Homo sapiens: one gene and its partners. The protein of the gene in region 5 interacts with the protein of the main gene of each other region in a biochemical or structural test. Each region holds a gene or a part of one and is shown on either strand. Other genes may lie near its edges. The genes, in order: HERC5, UBA6, NEDD4L, UBA1, UBE2L6, ITCH and RUNX1.

Evidence for each region.
Region 1: the proteins of UBE2L6 (region 5) and HERC5 form a complex in vitro, tested with the Homo sapiens proteins (one study listed by BioGRID).
Region 2: of the proteins of UBE2L6 (region 5) and UBA6, one has a biochemical effect on the other in vitro, tested with the Homo sapiens proteins (one study listed by BioGRID).
Region 3: the proteins of UBE2L6 (region 5) and NEDD4L form a complex in vitro, tested with the Homo sapiens proteins (one study listed by BioGRID).
Region 4: of the proteins of UBE2L6 (region 5) and UBA1, one has a biochemical effect on the other in vitro, tested with the Homo sapiens proteins (2 studies listed by BioGRID).
Region 6: the proteins of UBE2L6 (region 5) and ITCH interact in a test that uses a peptide from one of them, tested with the Homo sapiens proteins (one large-scale study listed by BioGRID and IntAct).
Region 7: the proteins of UBE2L6 (region 5) and RUNX1 form a complex in vitro, tested with the Homo sapiens proteins (one study listed by BioGRID).

Annotation. Positions count from the first base shown.
Region 1 is NC_000004.12:88,467,119-88,470,618, reverse strand, and holds part of HERC5 (E3 ISG15--protein ligase HERC5), read right to left. Parts: coding exon 3,415-3,500; intron 2,989-3,414; exon of another isoform or gene 2,913-2,988; intron 2,274-2,912; coding exon 2,197-2,273; intron 1,463-2,196; coding exon 1,359-1,462; intron 6-1,358; coding exon 1-5.
Region 2 is NC_000004.12:67,621,156-67,624,655, forward strand, and holds part of UBA6 (ubiquitin-like modifier-activating enzyme 6), read right to left. Parts: intron 3,099-3,500; coding exon 2,971-3,098; intron 2,068-2,970; coding exon 1,980-2,067; intron 1,771-1,979; coding exon 1,676-1,770; intron 1-1,675. UniProt on the Homo sapiens protein: Activates ubiquitin by first adenylating its C-terminal glycine residue with ATP, and thereafter linking this residue to the side chain of a cysteine residue in E1, yielding a ubiquitin-E1 thioester and free AMP.
Region 3 is NC_000018.10:58,047,226-58,050,725, reverse strand, and holds part of NEDD4L (E3 ubiquitin-protein ligase NEDD4-like), read right to left. Parts: exon of another isoform or gene 3,216-3,500; intron 1-3,215. UniProt on the Homo sapiens protein: E3 ubiquitin-protein ligase that mediates the polyubiquitination of lysine and cysteine residues on target proteins and is thereby implicated in the regulation of various signaling pathways including autophagy, innate immunity or DNA repair.
Region 4 is NC_000023.11:47,210,829-47,213,228, reverse strand, and holds part of UBA1 (ubiquitin-like modifier-activating enzyme 1), read right to left. Parts: intron 2,388-2,400; coding exon 2,313-2,387; intron 2,194-2,312; coding exon 2,004-2,193; intron 806-2,003; coding exon 717-805; intron 459-716; coding exon 366-458; intron 240-365; coding exon 48-239; intron 1-47. UniProt on the Homo sapiens protein: Catalyzes the first step in ubiquitin conjugation to mark cellular proteins for degradation through the ubiquitin-proteasome system.
Region 5 is NC_000011.10:57,551,162-57,554,417, forward strand, and holds the end of UBE2L6 (ubiquitin/ISG15-conjugating enzyme E2 L6), read right to left. Parts: intron 1,349-3,256; coding exon 1,197-1,348; 3' UTR 501-1,196; downstream 1-500. UniProt on the Homo sapiens protein: Catalyzes the covalent attachment of ubiquitin or ISG15 to other proteins. Functions in the E6/E6-AP-induced ubiquitination of p53/TP53. Promotes ubiquitination and subsequent proteasomal degradation of FLT3.
Region 6 is NC_000020.11:34,366,273-34,369,772, forward strand, and holds part of ITCH (E3 ubiquitin-protein ligase Itchy homolog), read left to right. Parts: intron 1-3,121; 5' UTR 3,122-3,198; intron 3,199-3,500. UniProt on the Homo sapiens protein: Acts as an Acts as an E3 ubiquitin-protein ligase which accepts ubiquitin from an E2 ubiquitin-conjugating enzyme in the form of a thioester and then directly transfers the ubiquitin to targeted substrates.
Region 7 is NC_000021.9:34,829,303-34,832,802, reverse strand, and holds part of RUNX1 (runt-related transcription factor 1), read left to right. Parts: intron 1-3,500.

The DNA of each region.
Region 1 (3,500 bases), on a different chromosome or scaffold from region 5:
TTTCCCTATATTAGTAATAAGACACTGGTTAAACCAAATCACATGGTATACATACATACAGCCTCTTTCTTTACAGCATGAGACATGATAAATACCACATCTTATAACTATCCTTCCAACCTCTCCATTTGTCTCCTATCTGTATGCATATTACCTTGGCTTGGCTTCTAAAAGTCCATTCTGTTTGGTAAATCTCAAAATTTCAGTGGCAAACATGGGAAATAAAAAAGTTTATACATACTCAGAGAAGCCTCAAATAAAGAGGAAAGGCTTGATTTATGGTCAGAACTTTCTTGAACAAACAAAATACTCCCACCCCACCAACTATGCAAGTCCTATTTATTTCTATTCCACTGAAGTAGAAATAAATTACCAGAAATTAAATGGGGGAAGGAGTATGCTCAGTTTCATCTTAGAAGTAGTTGTACAGTTCTTAATTATTTATGCTCTGCAAATTATGATGCAACTATTTTGTGCAACTACTTTGTACAATCATTTTCCAGAATTAGAAAGCCATACCTAAAAATATTTCTAAAAGATGATGTTTGTAAGAATAGGTAGGAGTTCTGTAAACCTATAGGAGTTCTATGGTTTAGAGAAGAATGGTACAAATTGTTCAGCTAAGAATAACAGGTACACAAACTAATGGTTCCAGGATCAAATGGGACTGGGAAACACTATAGACTCTATTTTCTGGCCAGAGAGTCACAATATACATAAACAGAGGCCTGGAGAAGCCCTACAGTAAAGAAAGCTGTCCTCATGGCGCTTACATGCTAGTTGTGATGGGTTAGTTTTATATGTCAACTTGGCTAGGCCATGGTACCAAGATATTTGGTCAAATATTATTCTGGATGTTTCTATGAAAGTATTTTTTTAGATGAGATTAACATTTAAAATGGTAAACTGAGTAAAGCACTTGAACAAGTGAATAAAAAGAAAGGACCTTCCATAATGTGAGTGAGCCTCATCCAGTTGAAGGCCTTAAGAGAAAAGGCTGAGGTCACCCAAAGAAGAGGAAATTCTGCTTTTAGATTGCCTTCAGACTTGAGCTGCAACATCAACTCCTCCCCAAGTCTCCAGCCTGCTGGCCTGCCCTACAGATTTTGGACTTGCCAGCCCCTACAATCTCATAAGCCAATTCCTTAAAATAATCTCTCTCTCTCCCCTCCATAGATACATAGATGGACAGACAGACATGATAGAGATAAAGATAGAGACAGAAATACACACATATCCTATGAGTTTGTTTCTCTGGAAAACCCTGACTACAAAATCTCATATTGCTGTGCAGAACCAGTTTGGGAAATGATACTTGAGAGTGATATATAAGCAGAGAGTCAGACTGTGGGGTGTACCTTTTTGTGCTCTGCCACCGTTTAGTCTCCACATCAGCAATCCATCTCTTTACAGTCCCTTCATTCAGAGTAGGAATTGTCCTCTTCAGATTAACATATGAATTCTGTAAACAAACAGGAAAGTAAAATACAATAATTTAGACACATCAGAGATAGGCACCCAACTTTTAGGTACACTCTAGAGAGTAAAACTGACTTTTAAATATGTGTAATACAGCCCTGGGACAATCACAAAGTGATACTCAACAAATAAGTAATCAATCATTTGCCTGGTTGCCACTTTCTTGTCCAAGGGGGCTTAGACTGAAAGTAAATTTCTTTGAGGACTCAACACTCAGCACTTTATACAAATACAATCAAATTAAACTGAACATCAGACAGCCTTGAAGGGAAGGGAAGATCCTGAAAGAGCTGTGTGCAGAAGTGTGAGGAACTCGATTTCACTTGGTGAAGTAGGGCAGGGAAGTTATGGACTTTTTATTTGCAAGCCCATGAACCTTGGTGTCTTTCTTAGTACTGGCCTGCAAAGTCATTTTTAGAATCTGTCACTCTGTTGTTTGCAAGGATACTGACCAAACATCATTGGCAAGTAGCCCCCAAAAGGTAAGTATAGCCTATGGAAATCACACTGATTAGACATTCACCAGAGAAAAATCTGCTGATTTTTGTGGGAAAATACTGATGTAGTTTAGACAATAAAGGATCAGTAATGTCCAGCTATCCCCCAAAAAGTCAGCCTGGTAAACTGATGATTTTGGAATTCACCAAACTGGGATACTAGAACCCTTAGTTTTGCTTAAAATACCAGGTTATAGAACACCTGGAGATCTATTTTTACCTCTTTCTTTATCCAGAGCAAAATGCTTTGATTCCCTCCAGCAATCATTATTAACTCCTTTTCTGAGGTATGGCTTTCTGAAAGGATGCACAAAGAGTAAGAGTTTTAGAAAGTCATTTGGCACAAACATGCATGTTCAATTTAAATAACTTCAGATTCTTCTTAAACGTAGTCATCTTTTCTTCTTAATAGACAAAACTTAGTACATTTTCTGCCAATTAAGCAGCTGAAATACATATCCTTTGGAGTAAAGTCTAGTTGGCAAACATAGGTAATTCACAAGGTGGACATGTGACATCAGTTTAATATACATAATACAAATATTTATATATAAAATGCAAATATTTGATTAGCTAAATGTTATCAGTTTAATTCAACTCCCATTACTAAAAACCATGTTTTCAAGATTTAAGCAATGACTGCTGGCTATAAAGAATATAAGTACTTTAAGCCCATGTAACTGTTATAAGGAATCAAAGATAATACATGCTGCTTAAGGAAATAACTCTGTTCGTTTTCCTACAAGAAATGAGTAGATTTTGTTACTTGAGGTCACCACTAAGCTTTCAGAAACAAGTAACAGAAATGCTCCAAGGTGCTTCTACAATGGAGTGTTTCAGAGCTCAGACTCTGAGGTCATAAAGGGCACGGGTTCAACTCCAGACAAACCACTTACTGGCCATGATTAAGTGGCTAACCCTTTTCTCTCCAAGTCTCTTTATCCTCCAGTAAAAGAGGAGTGACAGAATACACCTCCCAGGAACTGTTACAAGGATTGGTGAGATAACACAAGTAAGTGCTGAGCACAGTTCAGTGCCAGGTATACGTTGATTGCTCATTATTCTGAGGGTTTTATATGACTGTGGATCAACTTAACCAGGGCAACCAGCCAATTACAAGAATTAGTAAACAACTAATTACAAGAATTAGTAAGTCTCTTGCAAACTGGAATGAGAGCTGCATATGCCTCTGAATCCATTGTCTATTTTATCATTTAAATTCACATTAATCCTAATCTGAAGGAGTAATATAGAATAATTATTTTGCCTCAGTAAATTAGACTGACTCTTGAATTGTTTACCAGTAAAAAATGAAACCAGTATTTAGAGAAACTCCCTTCATAGTCATATGTTGCTTTCTTTGCCACATTACCTAGTTAGAAAAATCATTTTCTCTAAAAAGATACTATGCCAAACCCTATGTTCCTATAGAATTTACCAAGTTTGAGTTCTTCACTTGATGATACTTTCACTGGAAGCGGCATCAGCTGGTCACGTGTTCCACCATTTCCCAGTTGTCCATCT
Region 2 (3,500 bases), on a different chromosome or scaffold from region 5:
ACACTAGCCTTGCTTGATCCAAAAGATACTGAGGGATCCTAATGAAAAATAATATAAGGCAAATTAATGCCTTAGCTAATAAAATAGTAGTTTTACTTTTTAAGGTACAGATAATTCAGACTAGATCATAATTTAAGAATGATTAACCTCAACTGATTATCATAGTTAAAGCCAATAGATACGTTAAACACAACCATCATGCAGAGATTCATTTACTAGTCTGACAAATATTTGTTGGTAACCTTTTATTTGCCAGGTATTGATCTAAGTGCTTGAGATACAACAGTGACAAGATCAAATAAAGATTCCCACTCTTGTGAAATATATGTTCTAGTAGCAGGTAAATAGCTAATATACAGTACATGGGCCGGGCACAGTGGCTCACGCCTGTAATCCCAGCACTTTGGGAGGCTGAGGCGGGAGAAATCACCTTAGGTCAGGAGTTCAAGACCAGCCTGGCCAACATGGTGAAATCCGTCTCTACTAAAAATACAAAAATTAGCCAGGTGTGGTGTTGGGTGCCTGTCATCCCAGCTATACTCGGGAGGCTGAGGCAGGAGAATCGCTTGAACTCAGGAGGCAGAGGTTGCAGTGAGCTGAGATCGCGCCACTGCAATCCAGCCTAGGCGACACAGTGAGACTCCGTCTCAAAAACAAACAAACAATAAATATAAGCAAAATACACAGCAGCACAGCAGTCATAGGACAGTAATAAGTGCTCTGAAAAAAAGAAAAAGTAGAGAAGAGTAAAGGGGACTAGACATACTAGACTGGGGCTGAGGACAGGTTGCAGTATTAAATGAGGCCTCTTTAGGAAGTGCAAAGACCAGGGGTGAGACTTGGCCAGGTCACTGTCTCAGAGTTACAAGCAGAGGGAACAACTAAAGCAAAGGTCCCATGCTGGAGCATGATTAGAGTGAGTATTCAAGGACAAATAAGGAGGCCAGTGTAGCTGGAATATTGTGAAGGGAAAGTAAGGAAGGAACTTAGAAGGATAACTAGGAATCTAAATTTAGAGTCTTGCAGACCACGATAAAGACTTTAGCTTTCTTTGGTTCTTTCTTCCTTTCAGTCTCTGCTCAAATTCCACCTTAACAGGTGAGACTATGATAGGCAAAGGGAAAACCTAGACTACTCAGTATAATATAGCAACTCAACACCCCCAACTCCCCATATTTCCTTTTCTCTTTATTCTTCTTTAATTTCTCCATAATACTTACTATCACCTAACATACTTGCCTTATTGTTATGCAAACTCCTTAAGTAGGAAAGAACTTTGGTTTGCTAACTGCTATCTCCCTAATGACTAGAATAGTACCTGGCACACAGCTGGCACCTTAAACAATAATTTGTTGAATAAATGAACAAAAATAGTGATTTGGCAGTTAGATTACTCATAAGCCTGGTCATTAAGTGTCTCAACATAAGAGACGGATCCACTTTTACTTAAGTGTACTGGCCAAATCAGGTTTCTAAACCTATTAACTGAAGAGCTGAATCTCTCGAGAGGTAGCCTGTTGGCCTTCACCTGGCAGATTCACTGTCTTTATTAATGTCATTAGACAAGACTAATGCTTTTATCTGAATTATAGTAACCTCTATATTTAATTTTTTAGTGTGCATCAACTTACATTTAAATTCTTGTTAATCGCTGCATATAATGTTGAATACTTACGTTAACTTCAATCTTTTTGCATGACCAGGCATTACAGGAACATAAAGCATTTTGACTCCCTGTACCACCATTGTTGGCTCAATTCCATACTTCTCCTAAAAGTGAATATCCAAAAAAGAAACAATGAAAGCCTCGCTCAAACATAAAATGCTTATTTAACATTGTTCGTAAACAATGTTTTATGACCAGTAAAAAAAGCAAATTCATGGTAAATAATTATAACTTCCAATAAAATTATAAATAAAAACAAAACAGAAACCAGACATAAAGCTACTAATGAACTAAATGAACAAAAGTATCTCACTTTGACTGCATTTATGAAATCCAAGAGGGTGAAATCTTCTTTTCCATGTACGGTCCATCGATCCCAAATTGTAAATGATATTCCATTTCTGTTACAGAAAAATATTCAGAACAGAAACATTGAAATTTTCTTCCTTTTAGTGATGACACACACACAAAAAAAACCCACTTTCAGAAGTCCATTATTTGTGATCAGGCTAGAAATTAATGTGGGGAAATAAAGGATAATATATCTTCTAAAATATTCCATAATCTTATTTCTTCATCACATCATATAGATAACCACTTTTAATCAGTACCTTGCTGATCCTTCCAGTGTATTATAAATCAGTATGTTTTAGCAAGACAGTGTTGTCTCTCTCTTTTTAAAATGGGTTTCACTGTGTGGATGTTCCAGTACCCCATTACTGGACACTTCGGTTATTCTAATCATTGGCCACGATAAATAATGCCAGAATAATTATCTTGCAAATATATAGTTTGAGACTTGTGCAAATGTATCTGAAATATAGTGCTATATATCCCTTACTGTGGATTATAGTATTTTGTACTCTCATTAGTAATGTATGAGAGTGTCTGCTTTCTCACACCCTTGTTAAGGTAGGTTTTTTTTCAAGTTTTTGGTTGTTGCCAATCTGAAAACTAAAAAGTACAGGCCCAGGAATTGTTCTGCTTTGTCTCAAGCTTGTGGAATTCTTCTAAATCTCATGACCTACAGTCAGACACCAGGGTACCTTCTAATTCATCTGGCAGACACAGATGAAACCATAATGCCAAATAATGTGGCAGATAAAGTGCTGTAAGGGTTCTTTGGCTACTTTAGTCAGAAATATTTAATGAAGATGAGGTTTGAGCTGATCTTGAAGTGATGGCAAAAATTTACACATACACAATAGAAGAAAAAAGAGGTGAAGCTAGTATTTTTCCCTTTTAAAAGGTAAAATATTTTATTTCATTCTCATTATACAAGAGAAATAGACTTTCATACATACCTGATTTTAGTTTTCCTTACTTCAGTTGTCTCTGTAAATACTACAATTGGAATGGCTAAGTTAAGAAAACAATTTTTGTAAGCTTCAAATGGATAGCCACCAGTTACTTTGATCATCTCCAAGGCAACCTAGATAAAAGAAGGTGATCTGATAATATAAACAGCCTAAAACTATCCGTGATTTTAATTGCATCTATTCAACTTTCACGTTTTCAAGCATTTCTCTGTGGATAGTAAAAGCAGCTATGGGACTATAGTAATATAAATTTCTTATTACAGGTCTGTATACTTTTAGTATATTTTATACTTTCAAACTTTCAACCTACTCTATACATGTTAACAGTTATTTAAAAAAATATTAATTCAACCATACAGTCTCCCTATTTTGAAAGCACATGCTGTAACTCAAAAAATAACAACAGTCTAAAATCACTTAATACAGGGGTAAATAACTACATAGCTTCATAGATAATTACATAGAGTAATGATGTAATATGGTATAATAACTAGGGCCGCACTTAAAGATTCTGA
Region 3 (3,500 bases), on a different chromosome or scaffold from region 5:
ACAATGGCCCGAACTTGTCTCACTGCAACCTCTGCCTCCCAGGTTCAAGCAATTCTCCTGCCTCAGCCTCCCGAGTAACTGGGATTACAGTTGCCTGCCACCAAGCCCAGCTAATTTTTGTATTTTTAGTAAAGACGGAGTTTCACCATGTTGGCCAGGCTGGTCTCAAACTCCTGACCTCAGGTGATCCTCCAGCCTCGGCCTCCCAAAGTGCTGGGATTACGGGCATGAGCCACTGCCCCAGCCTGTTATTATTGTGACAGAGTCTCACTCTGTCACCCAGTCTGGAGTGCAGTGGTGCGATCTCGGCTCACTGCAATCTCTGCCTTCAGGGTTCAAGCTATTCTCCTGCCTCAGCCTCCAGAGTAGCTGGGATTACAGGTGTCCACCACCACACCCAGCTGATTTTTTTTTCATTTATTTATTTATTTATTTTGTAGAGACAGGGTTTCACCATGTTGGCTGGGCTGGTCTCAAACTCCTGACCTCAAGTGATCCACCAGCCTTGGCCTCCAACGTGCTGGGATTACAGATGTGAGCCACTATGTCTGGCCTGAGCAAAATTATTTTTATTCCTTAAATTAAGGAAACTGATGTTCAATAATGAAATAAACAATCATAACATTCTGATTTAATAAAACTAAATATAATGAAAATTCAAATGTCAATGTCTACAAATTCCACAGACACTACATCATTGAAGAAAATAAATTCTATTCATTAGTCTTTTTTTTTTTTTTTTTTTTTTTGGAGACAGGGTCTCACTCTGTCGCCCAGGCTAGAGTGCAGTGGCATGATCTTGGCTCACTGCAACCTCTGCCTCCAGGTTTAAGTGATCCTTCCACCTCAGCCTCCCAAGTAGCTGGGACTACAGGCACGTGCCGCCATGTTTGGCTAACTTTTCTATTTTTTGTAGAGACGGGGTTTCACCACGTTGCCCAGCCTGGCCTCAAACTCCTGAACTCAAGTGATTCTCCTGCCTCGGCCTCCCAAAATGCTAGGATTACAGGAGTGATCACTGCACCCGGTCCCTATAATCAAATTTTAAAACAACATGTTATATTCATGAATTTTAAAAACTGATTTTAAATGTCACCATGAAAACTAGGTCCTTTTAACATTTGTTTCTCAAACATTACCTATATGTCCTGGGTATACAGTCTACCATCCAGCATCTAGGCCCGACACAGGCACTTGGACTTGGCATGACTGGGCAAGCCTTCTCTCTCTTCAGAAAACGGCCTGTCAGCATTCACCTTGAGATCCAAGCAAAATCTAAACCACAATTTTTGAAAGCAATCTTGTCCTCACCGTTTTGCACAGCTGCAAAGATGGCACATAGGGTTTCCCAAGTAATCTCTTGAAAATACACACAGGCCACTTTTTAAAAACTAACAACTATTCTTAATCACTTACAGACGGCCATCCAGTTGGCTATGATCTAGGCCCCCAGTTCCTTCTGTGCTAATGCCTATTTAAGAGCACTTCTCTTTTTCTAGCACTTTCCTCAAACACAGAAAAGCAGAAATCTGACTACTCGTTGACTTAAAAGTACTGAATGATTGGGGATATTGAAACTGATGGCATGGAGTTTTCCCAGGTTTCTAGTCACTGTAATTCATCAATTCTAAAATATCCTTTTTCTCATATTTCAACTTCTCTGAAATAAGGATGCTTCATAAGATGGACAGTATGTCATAACTTGACAGCAATTTTTTCTTCGTGGTACATGAAATAATGGCATATCTTAAAAGTGACAGCACACTAAAGTGAAAGAAATATGGCATCCACGCCAAAGGTTAGCCTTAAAGGTTTGTTATGAAGTGGATAATTATATGTAAACAAGTAGAAAGACCCCTAAGACAACAGAAAGTAGTGGTGACTGCAACCATAGCACAACTAGCTGCCACATCTCAAAGGACATAATGCCAGCCACTGACTGTAACTAGGTTAGAATGTGGCCCCAATTAAGCCAGATTTTTACCATTTTCATGAAATTTCCAAGCTTTAAAACACTCTAGAGACCACATTAAGCAGGGTTCCTGGTCAAATCGGGCCCAGCAGCCATCAGTTTGCAACCAGTGGTGTTTATTTCTCTTACATTATCTTAAATAATCTAGATAGTAAGACCTTTCAAGGCATTTGTCAGAAGGGGAGGATATTCAGCATGTTAAAAACTAGGCCTTTCTATTCAAAATAGCTGGCTCCATAACTTAACTTGTTTTGTGTCCTTATGCAGGTCACGTAACCTCTTTGAGCTTTCATTCCTCATCTGTAAATCACAGCCTACCTCACACAGTTCTCATGAGAACTAAATGACATAGTATGTGCACAAGGCTTAGCACTTTGCTCTCATGGCGCATCTTAAAAGTGACAGCATCTTAAACTGAAAAGCATACAGGATCCATGCCAAAAGTTAACCTTAATGGTTGATTAAGAAGTAGATAATTATATGTAAATGAGTAGAAAGACCCCCAAGCCAGCAGGGAGCCGTGGTGACTGGCACCTATAAGCAGATCTGCCACATCTCAAAGGACATAATGCAAGCCACTGATTGTGACTAGGCTAGAATGTGGCCCCAATTAAGCCGGATTTTTACCATTGGTATAGAAGAGGCATTCAAAAGTAGCCAACTATCCGTGTTTGTACAGGATAAGGAGAGAAGGTGCCATTTATCCTATGTCAGCCTGGCCTTCATTTCTATGCCATTTGCTTCATTTTAACTACTAACGAAATTACTTAATGTCATATCTAATGTGATAAGAAGCTGCCATTCAATCCCAGTATTTTGTTCAGTAGAAAAATCTTTTCAATAAATGATACCTTTCTAAAATGGAATAAAAGATTTCAGAAAGTTAGCGGTAACATTCATAAGTAAACTATGCCAAAATGCACTACAGATTGCCAAAAATAAAGAAATAAAACAAGAAATCCACAAGGACTCAAGCCAGATGCAGAAACTAGTCCAAAGTGTTCTGATTCCAAACCAAATCTGATCTTGGGCCATGAATCAGAAGTTTTGTTAAACTGCTAATCCCTCTAACACCAAAAGTCCTTCATCTGATGGTTTTGAATCTGGCTACCTAAAGTGACATGACTTAAATCAGGGTAAATATGAATTATAACTCACCAGAGAAACCTCCGCCCGAAACACACAGAAAAAATTAAACAGCACATACATTCACACAAGCAAAGCCCACATCTCAACCCCTTACCTTCTACAAAGTGGACAGACCTCTGCTGATGACGCAAGGAACAGCACCTAAGCCCTGTGCTTTGGCATCCCCGTTTTCTGGGTTCATGCAATGCTTCATCATCAGCAGTGCAGAGAGCTCAACAGTCTTTATGAGATGGGACATAACTAAGTGCACTCCAAACATACCATGCTTTTCAACAATCTCAAATCAAAATACGAATCTACTTTTAAGAAATGTGGTAGGTATGTGTGTCTACTTTGCTAAAAGATTTATGAGGTCACTCTTCTAAATAGCGGTCAAAAT
Region 4 (2,400 bases), on a different chromosome or scaffold from region 5:
ACACAGATACACCCCACCCAAACCCTGCTTCGGATGCAGGCCCCCACCTGGTGACGTGGTGCGGCAAGGGGTTCAGAGAAACCAAAGAAAGGCAGGGCCAAGTTGAGGAAACCATTCTTGTAGGAGTCAAGCTGTCGGTGCCCCTGCACAACCTTGTACAGCTCCAGACACACAAGGCCAACCACGGCTGCTGTGGTCGTGGCAATGGCTGGGATGATCTTCCCTGCAATCAGCTTGCTCTGAGAGACAGAAGGGACAAAAGAAGGTGGTAGTTAAGTACAAGAGCCTCAGGGTCTACAGAGGGGCTAAGTGTGGGTAACTCAAACCTGGAGGAGGGTGGAACATCAGATTTAGATTCCCCTCACCTTGTGCCGGTCTGCAGAAGGAATGTCATAGTTTTCTGCCCGGAGGTTGGATGCAGCCACGATGAAATCCATATGAAAGTTGCTGTCATCATCCTGTTATGAGTGGGGAGGGTGTGAAGGCAGTGGGGAGAGGATCAGATAAAGAAGATGTGTATCCTCCACTGCAATTGCCTGCTGGACTCTCCCAGATCACAAAGGGATGGCTGGGAACACCTACTCATTCAGAGCCATATGGCAGGCCCACAATCTGATCCCCACAAAGGCCCGGGGCTGGCTCCAGATACTCCTGTTTTCTCCAGCCTGTCTATGCTTTGCCCATCCTCCTTCCCTGTCCTGAGCCCCACCCCATACCTTCTCAAAGTCAATGGGGTACATCTTGAATCCAGGGAGCTTGTCTGGGCTGGGCAGAGTGGCTTTGAGCTCCTCTAGACGACTGTCATCTGCATGAAGAAAGGGACACTGTCAGCCCTTTAGATCCCAGGCTAAGGTCTGAGATGGAAATGAGAGCCCAGGGTGGGGCAAAAGGTATTCAGGTACAAAAAGGATTTGGAAAGGAGAGACATCCTGGGAGAGAAAAGGGGCAAGGAGGAGAGGTAGAGCAGAGCAGAATACAAACCTGAAAAACACAGAGAAAGAGCTGAGGCTATCAAGAATGATCTCTCTAGAGACACTAAGGAACGGAAATGAAAATGTTAGGAGAAAGTGGAGATGGAGAGATCAAGATGGGAGACGTAAAGATCTTGGGAAGAATGATGTAGAGCAAGATGGGGGGAACACAGAGGATACAGGGAGGAAAAGGGGAGTAAAAAAGATATATGGAGGGGAAGTTGGGGGGAATACACAGATGTGGACATAGAGGAAAGATATGGGGGGAGATGGAGAAGATATAAAAGGGGGAGAGTGGGGGTATATACAGAGGGCGAGGCAGGTGGGAGGAGAAAGATGGAAGAAATATATGAAGGTGATGAGAGCTATGGAAGGAAAGATTGGAAGACATACATAAAGGAACATGAAGGAGTAGACATTTCAGAAGGAAGATGGGGACCATGGAAGGGGAAATGGGAGGAGATCTATGGAGAGGAAGACGGGGGAGATATAAGGAAGGTAAATGTAGGGGGCGTTACAGAGCTACAGAAGCATCATATACAGAAGGGAGGGGTGGTGAAAAAATATGCAGATGGGGTGGGGTGGGGGTGTCAGTAAACCGCAGCCCCAAACTATGGAGGGTGAAGATGCACAGAGAAACATGCAGGTAGATGTACAGATGGGGGCGGATCTGGAAGGAGACAAGGCAGGAAAGTATCAAGGGAGAGAGACTGCTGGTAGAGATCATACCTCCTAGATGAACAGATCAAGAAGAAACAGAAGAAAGAACAAAACTAAGGGAAATACACAGAGCAAGAGTAAAACAGCAAGTTCTCCTGAGGGCCAGATAGTGGGAAGGAGGAGGAGGGAGGGAGATAATTTGCCCCAACCTACCCTCTTCATGTCAAAGGGAGGCTCAAAGGAAGGTGTGGGTAAACCTCAGGCCTGGGGTCACAGAGCAGAGCAGAACCAGGGGTAGAGGACTGGTGGGGAGGCTGGACTAGGCCGGGGACATGTGGGGTGACTCCTGGCCAACTGGCCAAACACCCTCACCAACAGAGGCATTGGCGCTCTGCAGCTCCTGGTCAGAAACATGGATCTTGACGCCAGACTTGGGGGTGAATTCGGGGACCTGCACAGACTGCAGGAATGTGGCCACAGCAGCTCGGTCCTGAGAGCCTGTCAGCCCGTAGGTCTGGGCAAACAGGTTGGCAGCAGCCATCACATAGTCCAGATGCAGGGGCTAGGAGAAGGCAGGGCAGGGAAGGGTGAGCACATCAGCCCTCGAGTGGGGAGCCGCCACCTCCTTCCCACCTATTCACCCTCCACCTGACCCCAGAAGACCCTAGAAAGGAGACTTACATTGTTGACATCAAAGGTGAGCGGGTGTGGACAGCGTTTGGGCCCAGACCAGAACGGCGCTCCTGAGCTTGTGAGCTAAGGGATGGAG
Region 5 (3,256 bases):
AATCCCAGCACTTTGGGAGGCTGAGGCGGGTGGATCACCTGAGGTCAGGAGTTCGAGACCAGCCTGGCCAATGTGGTGAAACCCCATCTTTACTAAAAATACAAAAATTAGCCAGGCGTGGTGGCGGGCATCTGTAATCCCAGTTACTCAAGAGACTGAGGCAGGAGAATCGCTTGAACTCAGGAGGCGGAGGTTGCAGTGAGCCGAGATTGCACTGCTGCACTCTAGCCTGGGCGACGGAGTGAGATTCTGTCTTAAATAAATAAATAAATAAATAAATAAATAAATAAATAAAATAAAATGGGGACGTCACCCCTGTGGACCTTCTGAAAGCTCCTCTGTCCAAGGATGGCCTATTTTTCCATGGCCAACATTCCTTATGATGTTTAGGGAACATTCAAGGGAAGCAAGGTCAGAAATTTATGCTTAAATCCCTAGTCCTCTATGGTCCTGATGAAACCACCCCATCCCCTCATCAAAGACTCAGCTGCACTCCAGAATTCATCTCTGACTTTAATGGCTTAAGCAAGAACATGGTTTCCGTGGCTCCCCCTGGACTGAATGCTGGAGGATATATACTTCACAGTCTGAGGCCTGGTCCCAGGAACTGGCAATCTAACAGGATGGCAAGTGGTTTTGAAACATATAGATTTTCAGGATGGAAGTTTGATTCTTCAGATTGTGACTCATCCGTGGAAAATAAATGGTTTAGCACCTAAATCTGTATATTCCCATCAGTGGCTTGGCTGACTCAGTTGTAAATAGGGTACCCTCCATCTGTCTCCCACCCATATGCTCCACTGTCCCCAGGCCCTCAGTGCCTGAGCCCTAGGGGGATTCGAGTTGGCTGCTGGATTCATTTCCTGCAAGCAGGCCTGCAAGGTGACCTGTCTCTCTAAGATGGAGAGCTGGAGAACTGGCCTGTAACTGCAAACTTAAACTCCCTTGGCTCTGGGGAATGTAAAGGGTGTGGGAAGGGTGCACCTGTGGCCAGGTGAACCTGGGAGTGAGTCCATACACAACACACACACTCATAGCTCCCTTCCCTCCACCACACACACACACAAACTAATGACTAACAACCTAAGAAGGGAAAAATGAATGGGGAATGGGCCACAGGGGGCTCTGGCCTCAGTCCATGAGGTGTGTCCGTCCGCTATGCCGAGGATCCAGTGCACAGAGGGTCAGAACATGAGTTAGGAGGGCCGGTCCACTCCGAATCGGAGGGTGAACTCTTCGGCATTCTTTCTGAACAGCTCCGGATTCTGTGTCAGCAGGTCAGCGAGGTCCATCCGCAGGGGCTCCCTGATATTCGGTCTATTCACCAGCACATTGAGGGCCTCCAGGACTGGGGAGAGACAGGCCAGATCAGGATATCAGGGCAGAGGGAAGGGAGTCATGGCTGCCCGTTCCCAATGTCCTGACACTCCACACTCACTCCTTGGGGGAAAGGTTACATCGCTTAGGATTACTCTACGACCAGATCAAACGCCCCGCTCATTCTTGGCTGGTGACACCCAAGGCCTTGACTGATTACATCAGTGGTTTTCAAACAACTACATTCCATGGCTTCAGAGAAGCTCCTCATCACAGGGGCCACTGAGATAAGTGAGGTTTCTGGGTCTTATCCCCATTTCAACAAAAACTGCTCTGTTTTCCTCCATTATATTGGTAGTCCAAATAAACTTTTCCTTGGGCAAAAGAGGTCTAAGGCTAAAGACTGAAAACCACCACTGCCCCCTGGCTCTTCATCTTTCACAGATGCCTTTGGGAACCTAGTGAAGGCAGCAGCCCATCTCCCGAGACAGATGTGCACATCCACATGCAAAACAGACAGTTCCCAGACCCCCTGAAGCTCATCCAAGGACCACTCCTCTCCCTGCTCCCACTCCCACCAACCTAAGGACTTTCATTTCCTGAGTTAAAAACTCCTGAGCTGGTCCAGGTGGAGGATTGCACACTGATTCAGCCACAGGCTCTAGAGCTGTGTTGTTCAATATGGTAGCCATTAGCCACATGCAGGCATCTAAATTTAAATGAATTAAAATCAGGCTGGGCACGGTGGCTCACGCCTGTAATCCCACCACTTTGGGAGGCCAAGATGGGTGGATGGCTTGAACTCACGAGTTTGAGACCAGCCTGGGCAATATGGCAAAACCTGGTATCTACAAAGCATGCAAAAATTAGCCAGGTATAGTGGCATGCTCCTGTAGTCCCAGTTACTCGGGAGGCTGAGGTGGGAGGATGGCTTGAGCCCAGGAGGTGGAGGTTGCAGTGAGCCAAGATTGCGCCACTGAACTAACTGCCTGGGCAATAGAGACAGACCGTGTCTCAGTAGAAAAAACAAAAAGGATTAAAATTAAGTACAATTAAGAATTGAGTTCTGGCCAGGCGCAGTGACTCACACCTGTAATCCCAGCACTCTGGGAGGCGGAGGCAGGCGGATCGCCTGAGGTCAGGAGTTCGAGACCAGCCTGGCTAACATGGCAAAACCCCTCTCTATTAAAAATACAAAATAGCTGGGTGTGGTGTCATACGCCTGTAATTCCAGCTATTCAAGAAGCTGAGGCCGGAGAATCGCTTGAACCTGGGAGGTGGAGGTTGCAGTGAGCCAAGATCGCGCCACTGCACTCCAGCCTAGGCGACAGAGCGAGACTCTGTCTTAAAAAAGAAAAAGAATTGAGTTCTTCAGTTGCAACAGCCACATGTGGCTTGCGAGTCAGCCAAGTGCTGCCGTTTGTCATCTGTATGACCTTAGGCAACCACTTCACCTCTCACATGCCTCAGATGTCCGGGTCTACTAAACAACACTACCTCACGGGCTTGTTGGGGAAATAAAAATGAAGTCGGCAGGTGATGTTTTTAGCACAGTGCCGAAAGTGCTCAGTCAAGTGACAGGTATTATCATTATGAGGCCAGTTCCCTCCACTGTCATTTAGGACACCGAGTCCCAGAAAGGAACGAAAACTTGCCCAAAGTCCACAGAGGGAACAGCGGGCTTTCTTTTCCCGAGCCCTTCCCTGTGCAGCCAAGCTGCCTCTCCCATGAACCGCAGCAACGTTCCTCTGTCACAACTGCACAGGTATAAGAAGAGAGGCAGGAGGAGGTCAGTCTGTCCAGGAAGCATCCCTTCTATCTCATAGTAAGTTCAGCCAAGACTCACAATTTTTATCTCCTCTCTTTGGGGCTTTTCAAGCTCAGAATAAGCTGTGAACCCCCTCTCCAGTAATCTCTACCCAGTATCAGTCCCTCCTCC
Region 6 (3,500 bases), on a different chromosome or scaffold from region 5:
CTCACCCAGTCACGCAGGATGGAGTGCAGTGACAGGACCTCCAGAGCTCAAGTGATCTTCCCACCCCAGCCTCCCTGAGTAGCTGGGACAACAGGCATGCATTAGCATGCCTGGCTAATTTTTAAAATTTTTTTGTAGAGAAAGGTTCTCTTTACGTTGCCCAGTCTGGTCTTAACTCCTGTGTTCAAGTGGTCCTCCCACCTTGGCCTCCTAAAGTGTTGGGATTACAGGTGTAAGCTACTGTGCTCTGGCTAAAAATTTTAAGTATAATGCTAAAAATTTGGAATTTTATGTTGGTAGAAATAGATACAGGGCTGGGCTCAGTGCCTCACACCTGTAATCTCAACAGTTTGGGAGGCTGAGGCGGGTGAATCGCTTGAGCTCAGGAGTTTGAGACCAGCCTGGGCAACATGGTGATATCCCGTCTTTACCAAAAGGAAGGAAAAAAAAAAGAAATAGATGCAGATTTTTCGACAGGGAAATGATGTGAGTACATATGTGTTTTAGAAAATTGCTGTGTACTGCAGGACAAAGATAGGTATCAAAAAACAAAAAAAGAAAGATTGCTCTGGTGATGAGCGAAAGGATGAGGGACTAGCTATTGCAGAAGTCTAGTTGAGAAATGACAAAGCCTGACCTTGGAGAGAGGTTGTGGGGATGATCAAAGGATTGGATTTAGCTTTTTACTAGTGCAATATTGTTGCCATATTTCTAGATGAGGATTTTTTTTTAGAGCTAATCTGGGTAAAGGGCTCCTTTTCTGTCAAAAGAACCCATTAGCAAGTCTGAATAATATTGCCAGGTTATATATGTTATGTATAGTATGAGAGTGAATTGTTCATTAGCATCTTTGAGAAATTAGAAAGAACTATGTCAGGTGTAATTTGGAAGAGAACTTGAAGTTTGTTATTGTTACTATTTTTGAGATGGAGTCTTGCTCGGCCATGCAGGCTGGAGTGCAGTGATGTGATCTCGGCTCACTGCAACCTCCACCTCCCGGGTTCAAGCGATTCGTGTGCCTCAGCCTCCCAAGTAGCTGCCTCCCAAGTAGCTGGAATTAGAGGTGCATGCCACCAAGCCTGGCTAATTTAGAACTTGGAGTTTGGACTGAAATTTATGCCTCTAAAAAGTATTGATCTAGGCTTGTTGGGAGTGTTTTTCTCTCAGCCTGTAGAAACTTGCTCATTGAGTTTTAGAGTTGGGAGAAGTTACAGAGATTATCTAGTCCATAATGGCAAATATATTTTGGTTTATTGGCCAGCTCTAATTGGAAGCTGCCAGAAGCACTGTGTTTGGAAGGATTCTGGTTGTAGGTGCTCTGAGAAATTGTATTATGGTTGATCAATGATGTCTCCTGTGGACAGTTACCTAGTAGGTAGTAGACATGTGCCAAATATATGCTATTCTTAGATAAGTCCAATCTCTTAGTTTTCTGTTTTGTTGTTGTTTGTTTGTTTTAAAGGTTAAATAATTTACCTGAAACTAGTTAAGAGTAAGAACTAGAACTAGAACTGGGTTTTGCAACTCTGGGACTGGTATTCTCTGGTTTACAAAGATCAATGTGCACTACTGAAGAGCTTCTGGTATTAGACTAGAAAAAGAAAAGGGAGATTTTTAGCCTATGCGTCTTGACTGTTTAGGCAAGAGTTTAACAAGGAATTTTGGCCTAGAAGTAAGTTTTGTTATATTCATTCTGTCTTAAGAAATTTGTGTTAGGGCCGGGCGCGGTGGCTCATGCCTGTAATCCCAGCATTTTGGGAGGCTGAAGCGGGCAGATCACGAGGTCAGGAGATCGAGATCATCCTGGCCAACGTGGTGAAACCCCCATCTCTACTAAAATACAAAAAATTAGCTGGGTGTGGTGGCATGCACCTGTAGTACCAGCTACTTGGGAGGCTGAGGCAGGAGAACCACTTGAACCTGGGAGGCGGAGGTTGCAGTGAGCTGAGATTGTGCCACTGCACTCCAGCCTGGCAACAAGAATGAGACTCTGTCTCAAAAGAAAAAAAAAAAAAAATTCGTGTTAGTACTGATAGGAAATAGTCATCTGTTTTGTTGTTTTGCCACTTTCTTTCTTGTTGCCTAAGTCTCTGTTTTGGGTTTTGGACATTGGTTTCCTTTATAAGAATTAAGACAAAAGTATGTAAGGTTTTTTTTTTTGTATTTATAGTACTTAGCCAAATTCTGGGCTCATAATAAGCACTCAGTAAAGGCATGTTGACTTTTATGGCTGTAAATGATACTGGCTTTGAGTCAATATAAATTAGTTAGGGGGTTCACAGAATTGAATTGCAGCATTCTCTGGTTGGGAGGTTGGCTTTCAGCTAAAAACGTTAAGTTGGAAACTATCCTCACAACTAGAAGCAGTTAACCAGAAGCTGTTCCTGCCTCTATCCTCCTCCAGTCTAGCAGTGTACTGTCCTTGAAAAACTGCTGCCAGCTCAGCTTTTTTGCTTCTTTTCAGAACTGACTATATCCAGATCCTTGGTGTGCGTTTTCTTTTCCTGTCCCTAGGAGTCTCCAAGTTGCAGGGACTATCATTATGGTGACCCTTATAGGCTGGTGTATTTATATGGCCATCCTCATTTTGCCAGATAGCCGTCATACTCAGATTGGTGTCTTCCCATAATACGTATGAATCATTTTCCCTCAGTTCTTTCTTTTGTCCTGTCTGCTCCATTAAAAATTGTCTATCCCATGAAATTTTTAAAAGAGACTTTGTGCTTTTAGAGTCGCAAGGTCGTTGCAGATCTGATGTGTTTAACTATAGAGGTCAGCTGGGTGTGGTGGCTCACGCCTGTAATCCCAGCACTTTGGGAGGCTGAGGTGGGTGGATCACGAGGTCAGGAGTTCAAGACCAGCCTGACCAATATGGTGAAACCCCATCTCTACTAAAAATACGAAAGTTAGCCAGGCGTGGGGGTGCACGCCCGTAGTGTAGTCCCAGCTACTCAGGAGGCTGAGGCAGAAGAATCGCTTGAACCCAGGAGGCGAAGGTTGGAGTGAGCCAATATCATGCCACTGCACTCTAGCCTGGCGACAGAGCAAGACTCCATCTCAAAAACAAACAAACAAAAAAATATAGAAGTAATGTGTTAATGGACTCTCCTTCCTTTCTCAGGTACCATGCATTTCACGGTGGCCTTGTGGAGACAACGCCTTAACCCAAGGAAGTGACTCAAACTGTGAGAACTTCAGGTATGGTGTCATCCTGTGAGAGAAATTGGGGGCAAGAGTGATGCAGAGGCCAAGCTCTGGTCTTATACCTGCTGTGAGGAGAGAGCAGTGTTGATGCTAGCTGCATCAGTTGGTTGAACATATAGGCAGCTTCACTTGGTTCTGAAACCCAAAGCTGCCTCTGCAGGGATTAGCCTGTGAGCCACACTGTGCTCTTAATTTGGGTTTTCTGACTTTTCTGTTTTTGTAGATCCCTTATACATATGCATACTTTTTCTATTTGTGTTGTTTTATACACGTTTATCTCTGTATACTATCTAGAC
Region 7 (3,500 bases), on a different chromosome or scaffold from region 5:
TAATAATCATTAATAATGATTTAAAATGTGTACATTGATTTTTTTTAAATTCCAAAATACAAGCGTATATGGTAAATTAAGTCAAATGGTATGTTCAGTGAGCGAGATGGGCTTGGGGCAAAACAATACTTTGCTTCCAAAGAGGATACAACTCTCAAGGAGATTCTTTCATCTTGCCTTTAAGGTCATTTAAACTAATTCACATAATCTTCAGAAAACTAATTCACATCATCTATTCATGTGTAAAATCAAAAGGAAGACTGTTTTCTTAGTCTCTCGTTGCCTAACTGGCCATTTATACTACTAGGTTGATTAAGGGATTTGCCTTTTTCTGCTGATATGGGAACAAAAAGTCTTAAGCATTTTTAAAGGCAATGGAAAATTCAGCCACATGGGGGAAAATTGATATTGTCACCATTGAGTTGCTCTGTTTCTTGGTGAAGAGTGAATCTAATCTGATTTCCTTCTTCATCAGATATGCCTCTTTAACAACAAAAACAAAAAAATGGGGGGAAGTTGCACATTGAGTTCTCATCCTCTGAAGCTCCTGGGCAAAAGCATTATTGTGGACCGTGTGATGGGCATTCGTCAGCTCTTTGGAGACCTATATGCTTAGTAGAGTATCAGGTTTAACACTAAGCATCGCCCCTTTTTTGTTCCTCTTGAAAACTTTTACTTCTGCAACATTTAAGAAATCATAACTCGCTTTTAGAGTTCCTACGGGCTTGGTTGCTACTCTAAAGAATGTGTGAACTATATTGCTGGTGTTCTTTCTTTCCAAAATATGAATTTGATATTCAGTACTTCACTTGTAAAATTTTAGGAACAACTTTTAAAAAATAAGTATCCAGAATATTTTCATGTGAAACAACTTTTCCTTTTCCTTTTGTTCTTTCTTTCCTATAAGAAAACGCTGTTTTACGCTAATCATGTTTTGAGTAGACCCTTGGGCTTTTTCTCTTGAAATTGGAAAGTTAACAGGTATAATATGCAAGTCTTGTTCAGCCAAGACCTTCAGTTTGTTCTTGACAGTAGGAAAATGCTTATTTTCCAGGCTCAGCCCTGAAATTTCTATGTTATATTTACGAAGATACTTTAAGAAATACAGCATGTGTTTCTGGCTTTCTTTGAAATGGCAGTGGTAGTTTTCAGAAAAATATCCAATTTGTCAGAGTAGTTCCACAGTGGTGCTGTCCAGATGCATGAATGTTTTTCAGCTTTACAGAAATGTCAGTAACCGGGGGTTTGGCGAGCTTGCCGGGATTTATAGAAAGGCTCAGGAACCCTACCTTGCTAGGACTTTGTCAGAAGGGTTATGCCAGCTCCTCTGACTCTGTCAGCAAGAAAATACTGATATAGAATAGCACCAATACTTACCTAGAATCACATGTGCTGGAGGGTCACTCAAAATAGACATCTCAAATTATCTGAAGCACGGTACAGATTGAGAGGGGGCAAGTTGTCATGCCACTAAACCACTGTTTATTTGTTGGGGTCTTAACTATTAAAGGGCTGAGGTTTATTTCAACTTCCTATTTTACCAGGTCTTAAACTGGTAAAGCCATTTTGTCATGAAATAGAATAGAAAGCCATTTTGTCATGAGTAGACCCTTGGGCTACACGTTTCTCCCAGTCAGGACACCATCATTAACTTCTACGATCGAGTCTTAGAATTCTTTTTTAATTTATTTCAAAAGATAGAACAGGGCAGATTCTAGAGCTAGTGGTACCGATGCCTGTTCAGTCACAACTCCCACCTAGAGATGGGTTTGGGCAACCCGAGTGAGTGATTTTAAAATTTCACCCCTGATTGACCAAATATGATGTATCACATTTAAGGTGTCGTAATTTCCTCCTTTCTGGGAATATGAGGATGGAGTAATAGATGCTGGTACAGAAAACTGAAACCTAGATAAACTAGGAAGCCCATTTTGTTGTTCTTCTGCATGCTGGTTGTCATAAGCATGTAGGAAGAAGATTTAACTCTTTAACTGGACCAGTTGTGAGCTATTTTGACGTGGGTCAGACATTTGTACATATTATTCCATTCCCTCAACAATCCTGTGGTATCATTTATAGACAGAGAAATCGAAATTCAGAGGTTAAAAATTGCCCAGTATCTCAAAGATTGTAAGTGATGAACTTGGACGCAAACCCAGACCTTCCTTGCTACAAAGCCAGTGCAAGTGGGATGGCCGTTCCCTGGGCGTGCACTCTTGGGTCAAGGATCGATTTACTACAGGGCTGACCAGTGTCGAGAAGAATCCCAATCACCAAAGGAGGGATGGAAAAAGTGTTGGGCTATCCACTCACTTGGCATTCTTGTATTGAACATGTTCTATTATAATTAGATGTTGATAATAAGAAGAATTTTGGGGCCAGGCTGTGTGGTGGGCACCTTAATAAACTGTCTCCTTTGGTACATGTGCATTTGTTTATAAAGTTTGGGAGAAAAGAAAACTCAGAATAATGAATCTCTAAATAAGAGTGAAAGAGGGGGTATATGAGCAGGGAGAAGGCTTACCAGCCACTCTGTTTACTTTATTGGGGCCATTGCCTTCCTACTTTTGAAGTTCATTGGGACCAAGTGCTTATCATCCAAACCCAGTCAACATCTAATCCACTTTTATGAGTATGCGTGCCTCACTTTGAGTGTTCCATATGGCCAAGAGGGGTCCCTGACCTCTCAAATCATCTCTTGATTTTTAGTATTCCAAGTAACTTCTGTCTTGCTAATTATTTTCCCCCAAAATTAAAGTTACTTAGGAAGGACTATATTCTGGTGCTGCTGTCTGCAAAACTCTGAGATACTGAAATGACCCTGTTTCTCAGTTGTATAGAGTTATTTAAGTCCGTCTGATTCTCTCTTTATCATCTGGATAGACAAAAGGAAGAAAACCTTTCCACCTTCCTGTAGGAGAAGGAGATAAATCCTCTTTCCAGCCTTGGAGGTAAAATATCCAACTGCATTGCATTGCTTTCCTTTCTCTCTCCCTCTCCTTCCCTCTCTTCCTTACTCTTCTAGCAATTTGAAGTTTGAAAACAAAGGGAGTAGGGACTATTTGATTACCTTGAAAGTGGAGGCTACAATCAAACACCAGAAATCCTCATATGTGAATCTATAAATGGTCATTTAATGGTTACACAAAGTAACATATTCAGAATGTGAGAAATTAATTTATATAATAGGCTATAAACATGACAGGTGAATGATTTCATTTAAAAATAGCTTTTAACAAGGTGTAGTAGGGTATGAGAGCCTTTCCAGGTCTATAGCATTATAATCTTACCCCGACAACAAGCCTGAATCAGGTGTTCACAGGAATAAATAAAAATAATTAAAGGAAAGAAGGGAGAGAGAGAGAAGAAATGAAAACCAGTGGGATGACTGCAGAGATTCACTGCAGGGCTTGATCTTAGTGATGAAATATTTCTTCTGTAGACTGCATATGTTCTGAACTTTCCCCTTATGCTTGTAAATATGTAGGCCAGCACACCCA